Linked DNA regions of Homo sapiens. The protein of the gene in region 3 purifies or fractionates together with the protein of the main gene of each other region. This does not show direct contact. Each region holds a gene or a part of one and is shown on either strand. Other genes may lie near its edges.

Region 1 (6,234 bases), on a different chromosome or scaffold from region 3:
AAGCTTAGGACTTAGTTCCTTAAAAAATAATGTACTCATAAGAAATTCCTTCTATCACTGTTGTTACTGCCTTTTTGATGATTTGAAGTCATTGAACTTTGAAACAGCTCTTTTACCAACAAAGAAATACACACCTGCCATGAGAGGGTTTTCAGCCTTTTTTCCCCATTGTTGTTTTCTTTCAACAGCTGCTGGGCATGCTGTGTGCTTGCATCGTGTTGTGCAGAAGGAGTAGAGATCCTGCTTACGAGCTCCTCATCACTGGCGGAACCTATGCATAGTTGACAACTCAAGCCTGAGCTTTTTGGTCTTGTTCTGATTTGGAAGGTGAATTGAGCAGGTCTGCTGCTGTTGGCCTCTGGAGTTCATTTAGTTAAAGCACATGTACACTGGTGTTGGACAGAGCAGCTTGGCTTTTCATGTGCCCACCTACTTACCTACTACCTGCGACTTTCTTTTTCCTTGTTCTAGCTGACTCTTCATGCCCCTAAGATTTTAAGTACGATGGTGAACGTTCTAATTTCAGAACCAATTGCGAGTCATGTAGTGTGGTAGAATTAAAGGAGGACACGAGCCTGCTTCTGTTACCTCCAAGTGGTAACAGGACTGATGCCGAAATGTCACCAGGTCCTTTCAGTCTTCACAGTGGAGAACTCTTGGCCAAAGGTTTTTGCGGGGAGGAGGAGGAAACCAGCTTTCTGGTTAAGGTTAACACCAGATGGTGCCCCTCATTGGTGTCCTTTTAAAAAATATTTACTGTAGTCCAATAAGATAGCAGCTGTACAAAATGACTAAAATAGATTGTAGGATCATATGGCGTATATCTTGGTTCATCTTCAAAATCAGAGACTGAGCTTTGAAACTAGTGGTTTTTAATCAAAGTTGGCTTTATAGGAGGAGTATAATGTATGCACTACTGTTTTAAAAGAATTAGTGTGAGTGTGTTTTTGTATGAATGAGCCCATTCATGGTAAGTCTTAAGCTTGTTGGAAATAATGTACCCATGTAGACTAGCAAAATAGTATGTAGATGTGATCTCAGTTGTAAATAGAAAAATCTAATTCAATAAACTCTGTATCAGCCCCCAACATATTATTTTTCATTATTTGGGGGATATTTCAGTTCCAGAGCAGCAGTATCATGTTTTCTTTGTTGGTGCTGTCTATAGTTCATCATGGTTTACGTGTGTTTTCGTTATAGCTGTTGCCAGATTCTAAAGGGCTTGATATTCAAAAAACCACAGATGCTTTCAGTCCAGTATATCCTAGAAATATAGAGCTCTACTTTGTGCAATGCACTGGGGATACAGTGGCGATACTGTCCTTGTCTTCAAGGAGTTCGGAGTCCTAGTATAGGAGACATACATAGGAGAAGATAATTTTCACACTGCAGTGGTTGTAGTAATAGAATGGGAGTCCAAAGGGGAGTTCCGGAGAGGTCAGGGGTGACTTCCTGGAGGAGATGCCCAAGCTTGGAGGCTGGATAGGCTTTGTTGAAAGATGGTACACAAGAGTGTGAAACAAAATTGTGTGTGCAGGGAGCTTAAAATACAAGGCTGGGGAAAGAAGTTGGAGAAGCAGGAAAGCCCAGGCCCTCTAGTGTCTTACGGAACATCCTGTGGAGGTGAGAGCTGACTTGTAGGTGGAAGCAGCTCTTTGGAGGTTTGATTTGGAAGGTGAACTGAGAAGAAGGTGGTGATGCAAGCCGGCCGTGCTGAAGCCAGGATGAATTGGTGTGACTGGGCTTCAGTTAGGCTGGCATAGCAGTTGAGAGAGCTTAGCAGTGGGCAGCAGGGCACTGTTGGGGGCGGTGGTGAGCGGTGGATTCTGGCTGTTTGGAGGCAGGACAGTGGTGGAATTCGATCATTGATTGGACGTGGGACAGAGAAGGGAGAAGAGAAGACTCATCTAGGATGAGTCCCAGGTTTCTGGCTCAGTCAACTGGGGAAACAAAGTCACAGAGCTAGGGAGTAGTTAGAGAACACATCTGGGGGTGTGACTCATGGTCAGTTTTGGGCTCGTCAGTTTTGAGATGCCCAAATATCATGCAGATCTGTCCCACCTGAAAATGGAGAAGACACGGGAAAGGAGAGGAGTAAAAACTAACTCCTTTTCACAAAGTGGAAGTTACCAGAATGTGATTTCAGAGGCCCCGGGGGATTTATCATGTGACTACTGACCCATCCCACCTCTTGCCCCTGCCTGTTGCACAGTGGGCAAGAATGTTTGTGACCTTTCACTACCACCACCTCCCCCGAGCATGGTCCCCCCAGTTTTCAATATGAACCATCCTGTGGGTACCCTGTCACAGGCTGGCCCTGAGGTGAGCAATATTTGGACTGTGATGTTGGTTGTTCTCCACTCTTTCTACAGGACAGAACAGGGCCTCTAGAGTGGGAAATGGCTTTGGGAAATATGCCAAGCAGTAGCCTTGTTCTTCAACTTGCCCAAGAGGATAATTCTCCACACCCTTCCTGTACTCAGTCCTCAGTTTGCCTGGTGAGAGAGCAGCCTCCTCCCGTGTGCTCTGCCAGCTGGACCCAGACTGGCCATATTACCAGTGAGACCAAAAAGATGGAGGTGGGGAGGTAGCTCTGAGGTCTGGGAAACCATTCCAGCTCCTGCCAGTTTTAACTTGTGTTTAATTCCTGGCACAGTTGTCCTGGAAATGCCTTTTTCTCTTGCCTGGGAACCACTAGAAGGGGATGTTGTCTGTGTTGGCCAGGGCCATGCAAATTCAACATCTTGTTTCTGCCCTTCCCCCGTGTAGCTGAGGCTAGGTGTTGGCATTACCCAGTGCTTGTTCTTCAGAGAGCAAAAGCACTGCTCGTCATGTCTGAAATTTAGTGAGTGAGCTCACCCACTAGGCTGGTGTTTCCTGCCCGTGGCTGCACATTGGAAGCACCGGGGCACTTTGAGAACTACAGATGCCTGGGTCCCAGAGCATCTAAGGTGCTCTAGGGTGTGTCCAGGACACAGCCCTGGTTGAGGACCACTGCTATATTGTATGGCCTCTTTTAAAAAAGTTAATTTTACTTGGAAATGATTTCAAAGCTACAGAAAAGTTGCAAGAATAAAAACTGTACAAATGAGGCTCAAATATCCTTTGCCCAGATACACCTATTAACATTTCGTCCCATTCTATCTGTCATGTGTGTTCTCAAATGTGTGTGCGTTCTCTCTCCCTTGCGCCAACCCCCTGTCTCTCCCTCTCCCTCCCTCCTGCTGCCTCCACACCTGTCATGGCCTTTTACCCCTAATACCTCAGTGGGTACTTACCAAGAAGAAGATACTCTCTGACGACTGCAGTACAGTTGTCAAATTCCGTCCATCTAACACTGATAGAATACCTCACCACTCATATTCCCATTGGCCGCATCGTGTCCTCTATAGCACCTTTCCCTCTGCGGTGCTGGATCTGGTCTGGATCAGGTAATCAGTTGAGTTGTCATGTCTCCTTGGTCTTCTTTAATCTGGATCATTTCCATAGCTTTGTCTGTGATGATAGGAACAGTTTGTAAGGATACAGTTCGTTTTAGGTGGTGCTGCTTATCTGTGTTTGTCTGCGATTTCCTCGTGATTAGATTTGGTTTTGCATTCCAGGTGGCTGAACCACTACCTGCGTCACGCGGCCTCTCAGGGCATCGCATCTCGAGGCACACAATGCCCATCTGCCCCACAGTGGGGATGTTCGTTTTGATCATCTAGTCCAAGGAGGAGGAAATGTGAACAGGAAGGTTTTAATATAAGTAATTGTTAACTGTGTAGAAGGTAGTTAACTACTAAAAGGGATAAAAAAGAGCTCTAAAGCAGCTTAGCAGAGAACAGCCATCACCCCTAGGGCTAAGGGAAGAGAAAACAGAGAAGGAACGTGGAAACTCAGAGGAGGTTCCCCAAGGTGGAGAGACCTCCGAGGGGTGGCTGTGGTTGCCTGGGATATGCTGCCTGTCCCATGCTGGAGAATCAACTTACTGGAGGTGCCCCCCCGCCAAGCCACAGGAGCAGAGAGCTGTCACGGTGGGGAATGCTGCTGGGACCCGTGCAGGACGAAAGGAGACAGAAGAAAAAGGCCATCTTCCTCCTCTAGCCTTGTTAGCCCCTTCAGAGCCCACTGTGGGTCAGGCTGGCAAAGGGTAAAGGAGTTTTCAGAGCCCCCTCTTCAGTGTGACAAGGAAGGGCAAGGTCAGGGAAATTTGGAGTTAAGAGGCAATAAATGAGTACCTGGCACACCTAGTCGAGGTGTGTCCACTTTCTCCATAGCATGGTTACTGTTTTTTTCTTTTCAACTAATAAGAAATCTCTGGAGACACACTGTCTCCATGTACATACCCTGTTCCTCATGAGACTCTTCCCCATTCCCCGACCAGGTTCAGCAAATGTTGCTGATTCTGGCCTGATTCAATCTTTATGATGACTGCCAAGCGACGTTTCTGCAGCCCAGCACTCCTTCCTCATTTGCCAGTCATCCCTCCCTTCTCCTTCATTTATTTTCATATATCCACTATGGATTCCCATTTTTTCAAAAGTCGACTTCATCATTGACCTTTGGGGATGGGGGAAGAGTTCCTCAGATAGTTCCCGACTTGGCCAGCGAGAGCCCCTTCGAGTGCCTCCTATATCCCAGCATTTTTGGAAGCACTCCCCTAATTTCTGATCTAACAAGATGTTCCAGGCCCCTGGGCACCAGCCATGGATCAGTGTTTGTCCCAGGAGCCCTGGTCCCTGGCACTAGGTGTGCTTATTGCAGCTGGGGTGTCTTTGCTTCTTGTCCTATAGATGATTGACAGAGCTTGTCTTACTGCCTTTTTTAAGTGTATTTTTTTAAACAAAAGTAATTGGTGCTTTAAAAAATGTGAACAATACAGACATCTGTAAAGAAGTACCCACAGGGAAGCAAGTTCAGCAGTTCAGCAATGGCATGTGTCTTTGCAGACTACATACACAGAAACAGACTTGGTATTGGGTTTTGGTTTTTGCTTTTTGCTAATAGGAATTTTATCCTACAAGATCCTCTTTCTGTCTTCACAACATAGTCTGATGCTCCTTCCATGTCTAACTGTAGGATTTGTCATTCCATTGTGTTAGCTGTGTGGGTACATTAGTACCATGATTAACCAAGGTGTATAAAGGGCAGGCCTGCAGGCTGCCTCCAGTGCCTCCACTACTCGCCACAGTGATCATCTCTATACACACACTGCAGTCATTTACAATTTTTAAAATGAAAACAATTTTTATTGAGATGCAATTCACATGGCATAAAATTAACGATTTTAAAGTAAAGAAGTTGCCTTGAGTACATTCACCATGCTATAGAACCACTGCCTGTATCTAGTTTCAAAGCACTTTCATCACCCTGTGTCATGTATTTTTACATGAACTCCAAGGGTGGATTCTTGTTAGTTGGATTTACTCTGGATGGAAAAGTCATGTTTGGCTGGGTGCAGTGGCTCATGCCTGTAATCATAGCACTTTGGGAGGTCGAGACAGGTGGGTCACTTGAGATCAGGAGTTCAAAACCAGCCTGGCCAACATGGTGAAACCCATCTCTATTAAAAATACAAAAAATTAGCAGGGCCTGGTGGCATGCACCTGTAATCCCAGCTACTTGGGAGGCTGAGGCAGGAGAATCGCTTGAACCGGGAGGCAGAGGTTGCAGTGAGCCGAGATTATGCCACTGCACTCCAGCCTGGGTGACAGAGCAAGACTCTGTCTCAAAAAAAAAAAAAAAAAAAGTCACGTTTAAACATTTTCATGGATACATCTGGTTGCTCTCCAGAAAGCTTATATCAATTTCTATTCCCACCAGCAGTGAATGAAATGTGCATTTCTTTACACCCTTGTTGACACTTTTGGTGTGATCAGCCTTCATCTTTTCTTCCATTCTGAGAGATGAAAATATGTGTTTATTTGACTGTTAGCTAGGGCCAGGATGCTTTTAAAGGTGTTTCAGCCATTTGTATCTTCTGAATTTTGCTTCTGTCCTCTGCCCGGTTTGATTGGTTATTGGGTTTTTTTCTTTCGGATCTTAACAGAGTTTACTTAGGAAACTTTTCTGTGAAGCTTAATGTCTGTAGCTATTGTGAATGCAATGGTTTTCCTAACTTATTTCCGAGTTGGTGGTTGTTGGTGTGTAACAGCACCTGCTTTTTGGGTGCATCCTTGCAGTTCTTGAAAATAACTTGTGTGTTGCACGTGGCTTTCTATTGCAGTGCCTGTGAGATCTGTGAGGTCTCCT
Region 2 (7,028 bases), on a different chromosome or scaffold from region 3:
TCTAGTCTTTTATAAGATTTTGGATGGTTGTGGTCGCCATGATAAAAAATAGCAGCAGCCATCTGCATGCCAGGATAGCTGTCGTATATACTTTTATCTCTCTTTTTCCACTCACCAGCCCTTAGAGGTAGATGTTACCCTCAGCCCACCAGCAGGAAAACAGGCTTAGAGGGGCAGCACAATTTGCCCAAGGTCACTCCTATGGGTAGTGGCAGAGCCATGATTCAAACCCAAGGCTACATGGCCCCAAGGCCTTTGTTTTTAAACTACTAAGCTGTATTTTCTGCCATTTGTGTACTGCCTGGTGTTTTGTCTTTTGTCCTTGCCATTACCAGCCATAGACAGATACATAGTTTGGCTGTCATTTGAATGGTAGTGGACTCTGTTGCACAATGTTGAGGTACCATAGTTTATGTAACTATCTCCCCACTTGGTTTGTTTCCAGTTTCTCAGTATTATAGATAGTGCAGGTGTAAATATCTTTGCGCAAATTAGGGTGGTTTGTTGGAGTTTTTAGGTATTTGATGGTGGTCCGCAAAGTAGTATTTTTGAGGCAAAGAGTTATAATTTTATGATTCTCCAGAAAGTCTATACCATTCATTCACCCAAGCAGTGATTACTTTTGGAGTGCCCACTGTGTACCAGGTGCTGGACGTGAAGAGGTAATTCAGAAACAGCCCCTCTCTCAGAGAACTAACAGTCTGGTATGGGATGGATGATGCAGCACAGAATGAATGCTACTAAAGTCGGGGTTTGGGCAAGGGGCAGTGAGAGCACTGAGAAACAGTGTCCCCTGGTAGTATCTCTGAGTGTTCCTTTCCCTCTGCAGCATGGGGCAAGACGGGAGGAGCATGATAACAGGGCTGGCTGCAGAGCTGCCTCCTGGCTGAGGACACCCCCCACCAACACCCACGGGCTTTCCTGCCACCGCCTGTTGGCTCAGTCACTGCTGCCCATCTGCCACTAGGGGGCGCCGAGCAGAGAGGATGGAGGGAGGGGGCACCCGGGACAACAGGACTGGGGGCTCCAGCAGTGGGAGGAGTGGCAGCCTAAGCCCTTGTCTGTCCTCCAGGCCTCCTCTTCCCCTGTATGCCCACCGCAGCCAGGGTGACAACACGGTGCCCAGTCCACACTCATTCAGCAGACAGGAATGTGTGCATGCCTTAAGGGCATAGCTCTGTGCATTTTCACGCACCAAGCACTGTGCTAGATGCTAGGAATGCAGAAGTGGCCTGACATGGTCCTTGACCCTGAGATGCACTTGGTCTAGAGGGTTGGACAGACAAGGGAAGAGACAATCCAACTTGTGTGCTGGAGGCCTTCACAAGTGGCAACAGGAGCGTTGAGCTCCCTAGTGAGTCCCCTGGCAGTGCGTGAGAGTTCATTTCTCCAGTGCTCCGCTCTTATGACTTTGGCTGTGACATTGCCCATCTTCTAGCCTGGAATTTCTCCATCTATAAAATGGAGGGAATGATATCTATGTCTGCAAGGGCCTTCTGACTCAGATGTGCCATGAGCCTAAAGCAAGCCTGAGCTTCTTCCACAGAAGAGCCCCCAGCCCTGGTCCCCACTTTAGTCACTGAAGAAAGTCTCCTTTCTCTTCTCGCCCACATGCTCTCCTTACATGGTTTTCCTTGGCATTCTGCCTCTGGCCTTTTCCTTCTCTCTTTCTACGTATGTTCCCATGACTTCAGTTACCACTGTGTGCTGATGACACCTACATCTCCATGCTCGCCCCCATCCTCTCCACTGAGTTTGTGACTCATATAACAATGAAAATAATCAGCATTTGCTAAATCCCAGATACAATACTGTAATTACGGTATATTATCTCATCTCATCTCTCCAACAACATTGTGAATTAGGCAGTGCCACCCCATTTTATAGGTGAGTAGAACCGAGTTCAAGAGATGCTGAGACTTTCCCAAGGCCCCAAAGTTGATAAGTGATGGGGCCAGGATTTGCAAACCTCTACCTGTTGAGCTCCACTGCCCATGCTCTTATCCATCACACTATATGTCCTAGAGTACAGGCAGCCGCCAAAGACCCATTTCCACTTGGATATTCCACATACACCTCAATTTCATGTCTAAACTTGGCCTCATCATTTCCCTTCTGTCCCAATCTGCCTTTTCCTCTCTTCTCCATGGCAATAAATGGCACCATCAACCCAGTGATACCCCAGCCAGAACACTGGGAGTTTTCCAAGATCCTTCCTCTCCCTTACCAACCCCCATCTCCCCAACAATCTTCTCCAATCTTCTTCCACATCATGGTGATTTTCCCCCCACTCTCCTCCAGCCTCACTGCTGTTGCCTTCCAAGGCCATTCATCCTGTTCTCTTTTTGGGCTCCTGTAGCAATCTTCTTACCAGCCTCCCTGCCTCGACTCTGTCTGCTTGAGTCCATCCCCTGCACACCAGCCAGGGTGATCCTTTGCAGACACACGTGATCACCTCACCTTACTGCTTCAAAACTTCTGCTTTCTGTGACTCTACAGCAGAGCTCAAAGCTGGCCACCCATGGGCTGAAATCCATTCAGAAGACATGTTTTGCTTGGTCCAAAATGTTCTTAAAACATTTTGAATTAGTCGCCAACATTGGAAAATCAGGAAATTTCACATAAAAGTTCATATATATTGGCTTCTCTTGCAAAAGTGAAAAGAACTGGTAACTCTGGGTGCACATCCCTTCAGGGCAATGATTGGATGGAGCTGAGTGGTGGTTGCCCTCTTTAGAAGGGGTGTGGGCTTTTCAGTTTGACAGTCTCCAGCATCCCCTAGTGTCTCTTAGGCCCTGGTCGCACCCCTGCTTCCAATTATCTGCCTGAGAGTTGGGGCATTTGAGTTCATGACCCTGGTGCATGGGATGAAGCCCAAAGCCCTCAGCATGGCTTCTAGTGTCCTATGTGTCGCAGCCTGGAGCAGACCAGCCCTGCGAACCTCTGAGGCTAGTACCTGCTAACTGCCCCGTTACACTCTCCCCTGTGGCCCCATGGAACCCTTATCCATAGTTCTCTGAATTGCCCCACTCTTGTCTGTCTCCATGCAAGCTTGTGCTTTGGAATTCCTAGGCCCCTCCTTAAGTCCTATTTGTCCTTCTGGGCTTTGCACCAGTACTTGCTGTACCAAGAAGCATTCCTTGTGCCCCTGGCTGAGTTTTGTTTTCCCATAACAGGTGGCGCAGACCTCAGTCATCCCACCAGCTACCCTGTGTTGTAGTTGTTGACTGTGAGTCTGCAGTTGCAGGGAACCTGCCTTCTTTATCTTCCTGTCCTCAAAGCTTTGCACAGGACTTGGAATACACAAGGTGCCTCATAACTGTTGAATGAATGGATGAATCAGTGAAAGACTGATTTGGGAAAATAATAGTCTAGGATATGATGTCAACCCTAATTGCTTGGGGTGGGGGTTCCAGGTCCCTTTCATTCTTCAGCATTCCCCACTCTGAGTTCCCACTCAGAGTGATACCCACAACATCCTATAAACCATGCCCCCATTCTCCAAGATGTGGAATATATCCAGGCCTACTGGGATGATACTTTTTAGCAATGATAGAGGGAAAATATATCATTTTTGGTATCCCTGGGGGAGAGTTGGCACATTCTTCAGTTATTTGAATAATAATTAAGATAATGCCAGCATTTAACACTCACTGAGCACTTACATTGTACCAGACCCTGAACTAAGAGCTCTCAGTATATTGTTTCATTTATTCCTTCAACACTAAGAAGTAGGTAGTACTATTGTCCCCATTTTACAGGCAAGTAAACTGAGATACAAGGATTTTAAACAACTTTTCACATGGCCCGTAAGCGGTAGAGTCAAGATTTGAACTCAAATCTAACTTCATAGTTAACATTCTCAACCACTACACCATACTTCCTCAATGACATTTCTCTTTAGAAACACGAGGAAATAAATGTGGGAATGAAGGGTATACAATTATGTGTACAGTAAGATTGCAAATACTAATTTAGAAAAGAAAGAAAAGAAAATCCTGAGGCAGAGAAAATGACCAAAGAGACAAACTCATGTGAAAATTTTCTTTAATGAATACATACCACTTTTATGATTAAAAAAAGAGTCCTCTCTTTGTAGTGACCCTAGAAATAAGTGGCAGGACAGAGGGCAGGAAGGGGCTGGGTTGAGTACCCAGCTAATCAGTGGGGCTGTCTCTTGAGTAGTTGCCAGTGATCAGTAAAAGGAACAGTCATCAGGCAGCAGCTGTGACCTCAGTACCTGCACCCTCATGGTACAAAGGTGAAGTGGGTCACTATTCCTGCCATCTCACCATCTCCCCTCTTCCTCCAGGTGCTTACACTCCAGAGCCCCTCAGCAGTTTCCGGTGGGCTCTTCTCTCAACTGGCCTCATGTTCTTTTATCACTTCAGCGTCTTGCAGATCCTCGGCCTGGTAAGTTTGGTTATATCCCCTTCTATCCCCTCTGTTTGCAGTTCTCCATAAATCTTGGTAATCCTGGTTGGTGCTGACGTATCACTTTGTTTTGAAAATGCAAGATGCTAAAGGCCAGGATGTCAGATTGTTGTGTCTGGATTGCTGATTTATGATCTACAGCCTTGGCCTCTCCAAAGAGTTTTCTGAGTCTTTCAGTAATGACTGTTTCTTTCATCCCTGGGGAGGCAAGGATGCCTTTCACTCATGGCCACTTGGGTCGGAAACAATGAGCTGCAACTGGAAAGTGGTTTGTTGTGGACCCCATGGGGAGGCAGGACCCTAACCCTGCCCCTTGGCCTGGGGGAGTCTTCTGACCTTGGGTCCATCCTGGGCCCATTCATAGGCCCTGAAGGCTGCACTCTTCCCTGAGCTTCATGGCCAGTGAAGTGTGGTGTTGGGGAAATCCTGTGGCATTCTGGGGTGTTTAGAACTTCCTGGAGTCATGAAGAATGGTTGGATGGTTGGACTCAGTAGCTGAGTTATCCAGAGCCCAAAATTGCTGAGTGTAAGAGTGTATATCAGTGGCAAAATGAGTAGGAAGAGCTCAGGACTGGGGCTGGGGGTCAGGAGACCCAAGTTCAAGTCCTGGCTCTGCCACTGCTCTGAATGAGTCACCTCACCCTTGAGGGCAGAGAGTTCTCCACCTCTCTTTGACATGGTATAAAAGCCCCAACTTCCCTGAGAGGTGGTGAGGACTTGTCTTTAATGTGAACAGGCTTGAAGGGCTTTGGAAGGCAGGTGCCGCGACCGTCCCCGGGGCAGGTGTCGCATGTCTGGTTTTGTGTGCAAGTGGCAGTAATGTAGCATTAGCCATGTGGAGCCTCGCGTGACCTAGCATGACTAGGGCGTGTAACTGATGTCCCCAACACCTTTGTAGAAGCAGTCACTTTCTCTTCCTCATTCTGGTGTATGGCTCTGCTCTGGTTTGCTGGGGGCTTAGTCTGAGCTCCTTGCCAACAGTGTGAATGCTTCCTGCGCTCTCAGGAGGAAGCCGTACAAAGTTCACACCCTTACCACTTGCTGCTCTCCACTGGGACCCAGATTCCAGAGGCATCAGTGTGCTCATGTCACCCTACATACCATGCTCAGGCAACGCCTCCTACAAGGAGGGCAACCCTCACCCCATTCCTCACCATAAACCCCCATCCATCTTTCATGAGTCCATTCAGGTACCACTTCTGTCATGAAATCTTCTCTGAGGACTCAGCCCCCATATTGTATGCTCCTCAGACCTCCTCATAGTGTATAAAGCTGGGTGAGCCCTGTCTGGTTTGGGGTCAGATGTAGTAAACCTTTGACCACCCCCACTTGATTGATTGCAGTTACGTGGAGGCAGGGCCCACGCTGTGGGCTGTACTTTTAGCCTGTAACACCTCTCCGGGGTCTAGGCACATAGTAGATGCTCAGGAATGGCAACAAGTTCTGGGCCCAAACAGAAGGCAAGACCGTGAGCAAAACTGAATAGCTTTTCCACTAGACGGCCCTCCGCCATCACCTCCAGAGGCCTCTAGCTTGACTCACTCAGAAAACCGAGGGGAGAGAAGAAATCCCTTTATAAACAGGTGGGGATTGGTCAATCCCTCCTTGTCTAGTCCCCCATTAGGTAGAGATGGCTGAACTGGCAGAAGCCAGAGAAAGCCTAAGGATGGTGAACGCTCACTCTACCTCCCTTGTCCCTGCAGGTCACCGAAGTGAATTTGAACAACATGCTGTGTCCGGCCATCTCAGACCCATTCTACGGCCCCTGGTATCGCATCTGGGCCTCGGGACACCAGACTCTCATGACCATGACCCACGGGAAGCTGGTCATCCTGTTCTCATACATGGCTGGGCCCTTGTGTAAATATCTGCTGGATTTGCTCCGGCTTCCAGCCAAGAAAATAGACTGAAGGTGCTTATTTTTTTTTTTTTTCCTCCCTGAGGAAGCAAGTCGTGACTTGACTTGGAGAACACCCAGTTCTTGATAAAATCATGGGAGAGGGCAGTAGGATGTTTGGTGTATTTCTTTTTCCTCCTTTCTGTCCCTTTCTTCTACCACTCTTCCTTTCCCAGCTCTTCCCCCTACGATGTCTCCTTGAGCCTGGGGTGTAGTGCTGGGCGCTGGATTTTCCTCCTTCCCTTTGGCTCTCTCTCTGCTCCTAGTGGCCTTACATGGGGAGATTGCAGTGAGCGGCTCTTTCACTCTGCTTGTCGGTGCTTTAACAACAGCTGGTTGAGGAGAAAGGGAACAACAAGTAGTAGTTCTTTTGGCATCGAAGCAATGAGATTGGGTTGTGTTTCATTTCTCCACTGCCAGGGACCTCCAGGCTTATGCTGGCGTCCCATTTAGTCTCCAGCACAGCCCTTACCACGGGGGACTGAGGCCTTGTTTCTATACCAGCGGCAAGCCCAGAGCCGAGGGATTTCACAGCTCGTGGTCAAGACAGAACCAGCCAGATTCTGGTCACTGGTGTCCCATGACTCAAAGTAAACAGCCAACCAGCCACTCCCTCCAGGATGCTGCCTGGGGTGGGAGGTGAGAGCACCACCCAGCCCAAGGGCTAGATTCCATTGAGAGGGTTGGAGATCTATTG
Region 3 (7,174 bases):
AGATAAAGTTTAGGGCCAATAAGGCAAAGGTAAAGGATGTAGTCCTTCTAAATCCTGCTTCTGTTTCAAAAGTTTAAGTTCCCTTCTCTCCATAATGCATTTTCTGACTACTTCCACCCATGTTATTCAATCTTCATTTCCTTTGAGCAGAAGATGCCCTTGATTGTTTTCCGTGTTCAACTAAGTTGTGGGCTGCTGGGGTCAGGGACCAAGTTTTATGCTTCTTTGGTATCACCCATGATGTCTAGCACACTGCTAGGCACAAAATAAGTGCTGTGAAACAAAAATGGAATCTCTGGACCCCAAACTGACTAAGCCAAAAGAAAAGCTAAGCTTGGGAACTGAGTCACTAAAAAAACTGCTTTCTGTTATTGGAAAAAACTACTTTAAAGTTCATATGGAACCAAAAAAGAGCCCACATTGCCAAGTCAATCCTAAGCCAAAAGAACAAAGCTGGAAGCATCATGCTACCTGACTTCAAACTATACTACAAGGCTACAGTAACCAAAACAGCATGGTACTGGTACCAAAACAGAGATATAGATCAATGGAACAGAACAGAGCCCTCAGAAATAATGCCACATATCTACAACCATCTGATCTTTGATAAACCTGACAAAAACAAGAAAAGAGGGGAAACGATTCCCTATTTAATAAATGGTGCTGGGAAAACTGGCTAGCCATATGTAGAAAGCTGAAACTGGATCCCTTCCTTGCACCTTATACAAAAATTAATTCAAGATGGATTAAAGACTTAAATGTTAGACCTAAAACCACAAAAACCCTAGAAGAAAAGCTAGGCAATACCACTCAGGACATAGGCATGGGCAAGGACTTCATGTCTAAAACACCAAAAGCAATGGCAACAAAAGCCAAAATTGACAAATGGGATCTAATTAAACTAAAGAGCTTCTGCACAGCAAAAGAAACTACCATCAGAGTGAACAGGCAACCTACAGATTGGCAGAAAATTTTTGCAATCTACTCATCTGACAAAGGGCTAATATCCAGAATCTACAATGAACTCAAATTTACAAGAAAAAAACAAACAACCCCATCAAAAAGTGGGTAAAGGACATGAACAGACACTTCTCAAAAGAAGACATTTATGCAGCCAAAAGACACATGAAAAAATGCTCATCATCACTGGCCATGAGAGAAATGCAAATCAAAACCACAATGAGATACCATCTCACACCAGTTAGAATGGCGATCATTAAAAAGTCAGGAAACAACAAGTGCTGGAGAGGATGTGGAGAAACAGGAACACTTATACACTGTTGGTGGGACTGTAAACTAGTTCAACCATTGTGGAAGTCAGTGTGGCGATTCCTCAGGGATCTAGAACTAGAAATACCATTTGACCCAGCCATCCCATTACTGGGTATATACCCAAAGGATTATAAATCATGCCGCTATAAAGACACATGCACACGTATGTTTATTGCAGCACTATTCACAATAGCAAAGACTTGGAACCAACCCAAATGTCCAACAATGTGGCACATATACACGATGGAATACTATGCAGCCATAAAAAGGATGAGTTCATGTCCTTTGTAGGGACATGGATGAAGCTGGAAACCATCACTCTCAGCAAACTATAGCAAGGACAAAAAACCAAACACCGCATGTTCTCACTCATAGGTGGGACTTGAACAATGAGAACACACAGACACAGGAAAGGGAACATCGCACACCACGGCCTGTTGTGGGGTGGGGGGAGGGGGAAGAGATAGCATTTGGAGATATATCTAATGTTAAATGACGAGTTACTGGGTGCAGCACACCAACATGGCACATGTATACATAAATAACTAACCTGCACGTTGTGCACATGTACCCTAAAACTTAAAGTATAATAAAATAAAAAATAAAAAAATTTTAAAAACCTGCCTTCTGTTGTTACCAGGTAGCTGCAACAATAGAAGGCCACATATCTCCCCAGATAGCCTCCCTCACAAATTGCTTACAGTGAAATGCCTTGTGGGTCCCTAAATCTTTCAGAATGCATATCCCTCCTATAAATGAGCCCTAAAACACAGTTCTGTTGAATCTCACTCTGACAATAACAGCTCATCTTCATATGTATGGTATAAGGACAAGACTTGGAAATCATCCCTCTGCCCACCCCAAGACAAATTCATAATTGACTTTCCCCCTATTTTCACATTTATCTTATGTAAAATGTAGATTTACTGAGCATGAGAGGAACACATAATCAGTATTCCTCTACCCACTCTTCACACGCAAAATGTGAATTCACTGGGCACTAATCAAAGCCTCACAAGAATGTAACTTCTTCCCTCATTGCCTACCTTCCCATTTCCCTTTTTTTTCTTTCTTTTCTCCTTCCCCTCCTGCTGGCTCTTTCCCCTTTAAATACTGAAGTCCTCAAAAACTCTCTTTGCAAAAGGCACAGATCACAGATGTTCCTGTATTTGTGCTTTCTCCTGGGGAATGTCCTTAACCTTGGCAAAATAAACCTCTAAAACGATTGAGACCTGCCTGTCATTTTTTTGGTGCTTAAAATCCATGATGGAATTTTTAATCACTATTTTAGACTTGGGTAAATCTGGCTGTGAAAGTAGTGACAGAGTCTTTTAGAATTTTCTTCTACCAAAAATAATTAATCAGAAAGTCCCTGAGAGAATTTCAGATACTCCTGTAAGGATCAAACCTAAATTTAAATTAGACTTGTAGATCTGTGCATACCCAGTGTCTCACACATATAAACTCAATAAAAATTTATCGAATGACCAAGTGAAGAAATGTTCTTTCAGCTTTTCCTTCAAGACTCAGAAAAAAGATATCTGCAGTTCCAGAATGGACTGAGTGAACAAGAAAAGAACAGATCAGTGACACAAAGACAGCCTTCTTTTTCCCTTTCAGGGTGACTCAAATTGTAGTCCTCATCTGAACAGTCTGAGACACAACTCTTGTCTCATATTAACTCGATAGGGCATTTGCTATACTCCCATTTACACAAACTGCTCAGATGCCCCAAATGCTGAGTCTGTTCGTCTTCATTTTATTCCTTTGGGAGATGCCGGTACAAACTTGTTTTTTCTTTCTTTTTTTAAATGGAGATGTGACCACCATAGCAACTAAAAGACATAAATCTTGCCTAATTGAATCAGTGTGCTCAAGATAATAGCCAGGGCAGAGACTGAGTTAAAACTGGGGTAAGGGTGAGAGTGGGGAAATGGATGAGGATGATAAAAATATTTATGTCCCTAGAATTTGTGGGTTTGGATTAATTCTGTTTCGTAAGGAATATTGTTGGCCTTCAAATGCAGTGCCACTTGGGAGAGAAGCAAGCGGGCAGTAGTTGAGGTGTCTCTGCAGTTGAATCGCAGTGAAAGGCAGGTTATGAGTATAGGGACCGCCCCTCGGCCATGTGGTCCCCTCCCTATCCTGAGGATAACGACATTTGAGAGAAGCCAATGGTATTGGAAGGCCAGAATCGAACTTAAGCCGCTTAGTTGGTACAACTGTAAACCCTCCCTCACAGAGGCTGGGCCCTGCAATCTTTCTAAGCAGGGTAAAGAAAAGTAAGGGGACTTCCTTTTCGAAGAGGAGGTTCCCGCGTGCTGCACCCGACCTTTCCCTCAGGGCCCAACACGCGTTATATAAATGCCAAGTTACTCAGGGACGCACACGTGAGAAGGCTGGGGCCCGACACACGCGGTGTAGTGCCGAAGTCACCGGTGTGGCGCGCCTGGGGGACACGCCGAAGCCCATTTCCCTCCCGCTTCTGGAAAGCAGTCCCCGCTCTTTCCAGCTGCTCCGCGGGGCGTATGGCTGTGCGCTACCTCCTGCGGACCCCAGGCTGGGCGAGGGGGCAGCGATGGCCACATGGCGCGCTCGGGGAGATGGCAGCTGCGCTTTGTTTCCAGCAGTGATAGGTGAGTCACTGGCTCCCGCAGCCCCAGAGCTGGGCAAACACTCAGGCCCAGGCAGCTGAAAAATTCACAGCAGGAGCAGCTACCGAAGCGACTGCAGCCTCTTCCTCCTCTTCCTCCTCCTCCTCCTCCTCCGCCACTGCTACCGCCACCACCGTGGTAGCCGCCTCCGCGCCCTGCCTCCGCCCCGTCCCCTCCTCCTCCACCCGCGAACTTAGTCAGCGGTTCGCGCCGCCGAGCGCCCATTGGCCAGCGGAACGCGTCGCGTCACAATGGAGCCGGTCGGAGGCGGCGAGCCGGACAGCGCCGGGGCTTCCCGCTGAGCCCGCAGCCTCCGGCAGCCGGGAAAGTGCGGGCGCGGGGCCGCAGCCTGCCCGCCCGGAGCGGCCCAGGAGCACGCCGCGGGGAGCGCGGGCGTCCGGGGCTGGAGTCGCGCAGGTAGGTCGGAGCGTGACACCCCGGTTCCAGGAGGGCGAGCCGCGCCGACCGAGGTGGTGGAGGAGGAGGACCGGATACGGGGACGCAGCAGGTGGGGCTGGCCGAACAGGTGCGGTTACCTGTTCACGCCTCACCTGCGAGCCAGGCTGCGGGCCGGTAGCGCGGCTGCAGAGACGAGTGGCCGCTTCGTTGTGCTCCCTGCCTTCGGGAGAGACGGAGTCCCACGCTGAGAGGACCTCTCCTGTGTGCTGGGGTCATTTGGAGCAAGAGGTGTGGGCGGTCGCGCCGAGACGGTCACCTCTCTTTCCCCCGGGAGTCTCGGCGTTGCACCTGAGCGTGAGTCCTCGGGGCGGGGCGGGAAAGGGGTTCCGCTTTCCCAGGCTGGCGTCTCGCTCCAGATGAGCGCAACTCCCCTGAGGGTGCCCCCATTTGGTCGCTCTGTTTTGCCCCCTGCGCTGGCGCTGTTGGGAACTATTTTATGCTCTTGGGAACTATTTTATGCTGTTGGATACGCGTTGGTTGCCTATAATTTGGTGGTGGTGTTGGGCGTTGATTTGTTTGAGAAAGAAAGGGCAAGCGTTACCAATTTAAGAAGAAGACTCAAGAGTTTCCCCTGAGCTTAGTTGAGCAGGTGCTGAGAGGTCAGAAGGGAGGAGGCTCAGTATTGGCTCATTAATCTGTGTGCTCAACTGACTTCCTAAAGTCCATAGATTGCCTTTAGTTAGATGACATTTGTGGAAAACTTTTTTTTTCTTTGTGGTCAAAAAGACACCCCTCTAAAAGAACAAAACCGACATGTGAACTTCCTTGAATAAATTCACTTCGCCTAAAGACTTCAAACAAACAAACAAAAAAACACTCCACTGGTAAAAGATAACAGTATGAACATTTTAAATTGTAGATATATAGCCAAATTAAAACAGGCAATTTGTTCAGCGTATATTAAGAAGACATTACGTAGCATGATTTTTATTAAAAGACAACCTATTTGCAAATGATATAGTAGTCTTTGCAGAACACCCCAGAAATCTTAAAACAGATTTATCTTTATCAGATGGTTCTGTCCCCTAAACCTAGGTGTAGGAGTGAGGATGGAAAAGAAGTCAAACTGCAGTGTAATTTTTTAAACAATTCCAGTACCCTCTATGTGTACAGGCTACACCTCCTGAGAACCCCAAATGCTCTTTGTTTTGTTTCTTTGTTTTGTTTTGAGACGGAGTCTCACTCTGTCGCCCAGGCTGGAGTGCAGTAGTGCGATCTCGGCTCACTGCAACCTCCACCTCCTGGGTTCAAGTGATTCTCCTGCCTCAGCCTCCCGAGTAGCGGGGACTACAGGGGCCCGCCACCACGCCCAGCTAATTTTTATATTTTTAGTGGTGGCGGGGTTTCACCATGTTGGCCAGGCTGGTCTGAAACTCCTGACCTCAAGTGACCCACCCACCTCGGCCTCCCAAAGTGCTGGGATTACAGGTGTGACCCCAAATGCTCTCTGAATTGTGGGTGCCGAGGTGACTTTCTTTTTCTCCTGGCTTTCCTTGTCAGCAGCTCTACTCAGAGAATATAAAGTGACAGCCAACCCCCAAGGTAATTGGGCCTGTGTAATTTTAGAATATAAGCCCTAACATGTCTGATATTTCTGTAAGCTAAAAAGAGGTCTCTTGAATGGGGGTGATGTTGTCATTGAGTGCACCCTTGGGTCATGGCACTTTCCTTATACTTAGTATCCCCAACAACATTTTTAAATCTGCATGTCGGAATTAAGTTTACCATTCTTTGAAATGTGTTCTCTTTTTCCTCAATTGGTAAGGTGTTCCAACATGTTCAGCCTATTATGAATCTTTTCACATTTTGAATGATTTCATTTGACTAGTTGAGATTTGCTTTTTTAAACCTCTTCTCTACCACTATCACCATTTCCCATTGCTATTTTAATTTTCAGAATCCTCAGAGTGAAAACACCAACAGTAAGTAAAATGAAAAGGGGCTTAATAAAACTTAAAGGATACTAAGCCTTCCAAGTTTTTTAGACTAATCCATGTATTTTCCTGTAGTGGCCTGAAATTTGTTATTTTTTGTTGTTTTCTGAAGTTTAAGGGGAAAAATATTTTACAATTTAGAACATCCTTGTTTTAGCCAATGTTTTTCTTATAAACAAGGGTTTTTGTTTTTGTATTTTAGTTTTCAAATTCTTCTAATAGTACCTGAGTATTTTATGTTTTCTGGACTTTTTACTATTCATAGCCTGTTTAACCCAATCCCGGATTTTCATTTGGTGTCTCTAAAGTTGAATTCTCTAATTTTACTCTTATTTCTCCTTCCCAGCATCCTTCTACCACACCCTGATATTATTAGAAATGAATGCATTCTGATTCTGTCATGTTATTACACACTTGGTGGCATGATTTGCATTGCCTTGCATGGAGCAGGTTCTCCACTGCTATCCTGACTCCCAGAGCACTGGGTACATCAGCAAACAGTTCAGACCTGTGACCATTCAAGAGGAATTTGGGAGACCCAGTTATAGTGTAGAATTTATTTAACCATTTGTAAAATACCTTCTAATTTGTGTCATATCTGTTTTCATATTGCTGCCTTTTATTGCTATTGCCTACTTTCATTTTATTCCCCATCTGTATTTTCTAAACTTCCTACATGCCTTTATTATGACTTAATTTCTCTGGTGTTTAAAATAATGCCTTTGGCAGACATAATAACCTATTTTTCTTTTTCTGATCATTAAGGTTGATCTTAAGTAAAATTAGGCCTAGCTCCAATCACTGATCTCTCTCCTAAGTTCTTATCACTGTGGTTCATTTAGAAATTGAACAAAG

What was found.
Region 1: the proteins of LRRC8B (region 3) and TSPAN3 purify together in Homo sapiens (affinity purification with mass spectrometry; 2 studies listed by BioGRID and IntAct, with this or other methods). This does not show direct contact.
Region 2: the proteins of LRRC8B (region 3) and TMEM164 purify together in Homo sapiens (affinity purification with mass spectrometry; 2 studies listed by BioGRID and IntAct, with this or other methods). This does not show direct contact.

Annotation. Positions count from the first base shown.
Region 1 is NC_000015.10:77,040,882-77,047,115, reverse strand, and holds the end of TSPAN3 (tetraspanin-3), read left to right. Parts: intron 1-188; coding exon 189-281; 3' UTR 282-5,712; downstream 5,713-6,234. UniProt on the Homo sapiens protein: Regulates the proliferation and migration of oligodendrocytes, a process essential for normal myelination and repair.
Region 2 is NC_000023.11:110,167,108-110,174,135, forward strand, and holds part of TMEM164 (transmembrane protein 164), read left to right. Parts: intron 1-4,312; coding exon 4,313-4,413; intron 4,414-6,137; coding exon 6,138-6,344; 3' UTR 6,345-7,028.
Region 3 is NC_000001.11:89,520,680-89,527,853, forward strand, and holds the start of LRRC8B (volume-regulated anion channel subunit LRRC8B), read left to right. Parts: upstream 1-4,149; 5' UTR 4,150-4,343; intron 4,344-6,282; exon of another isoform or gene 6,283-6,307; intron 6,308-7,174. UniProt on the Homo sapiens protein: Non-essential component of the volume-regulated anion channel (VRAC, also named VSOAC channel), an anion channel required to maintain a constant cell volume in response to extracellular or intracellular osmotic changes.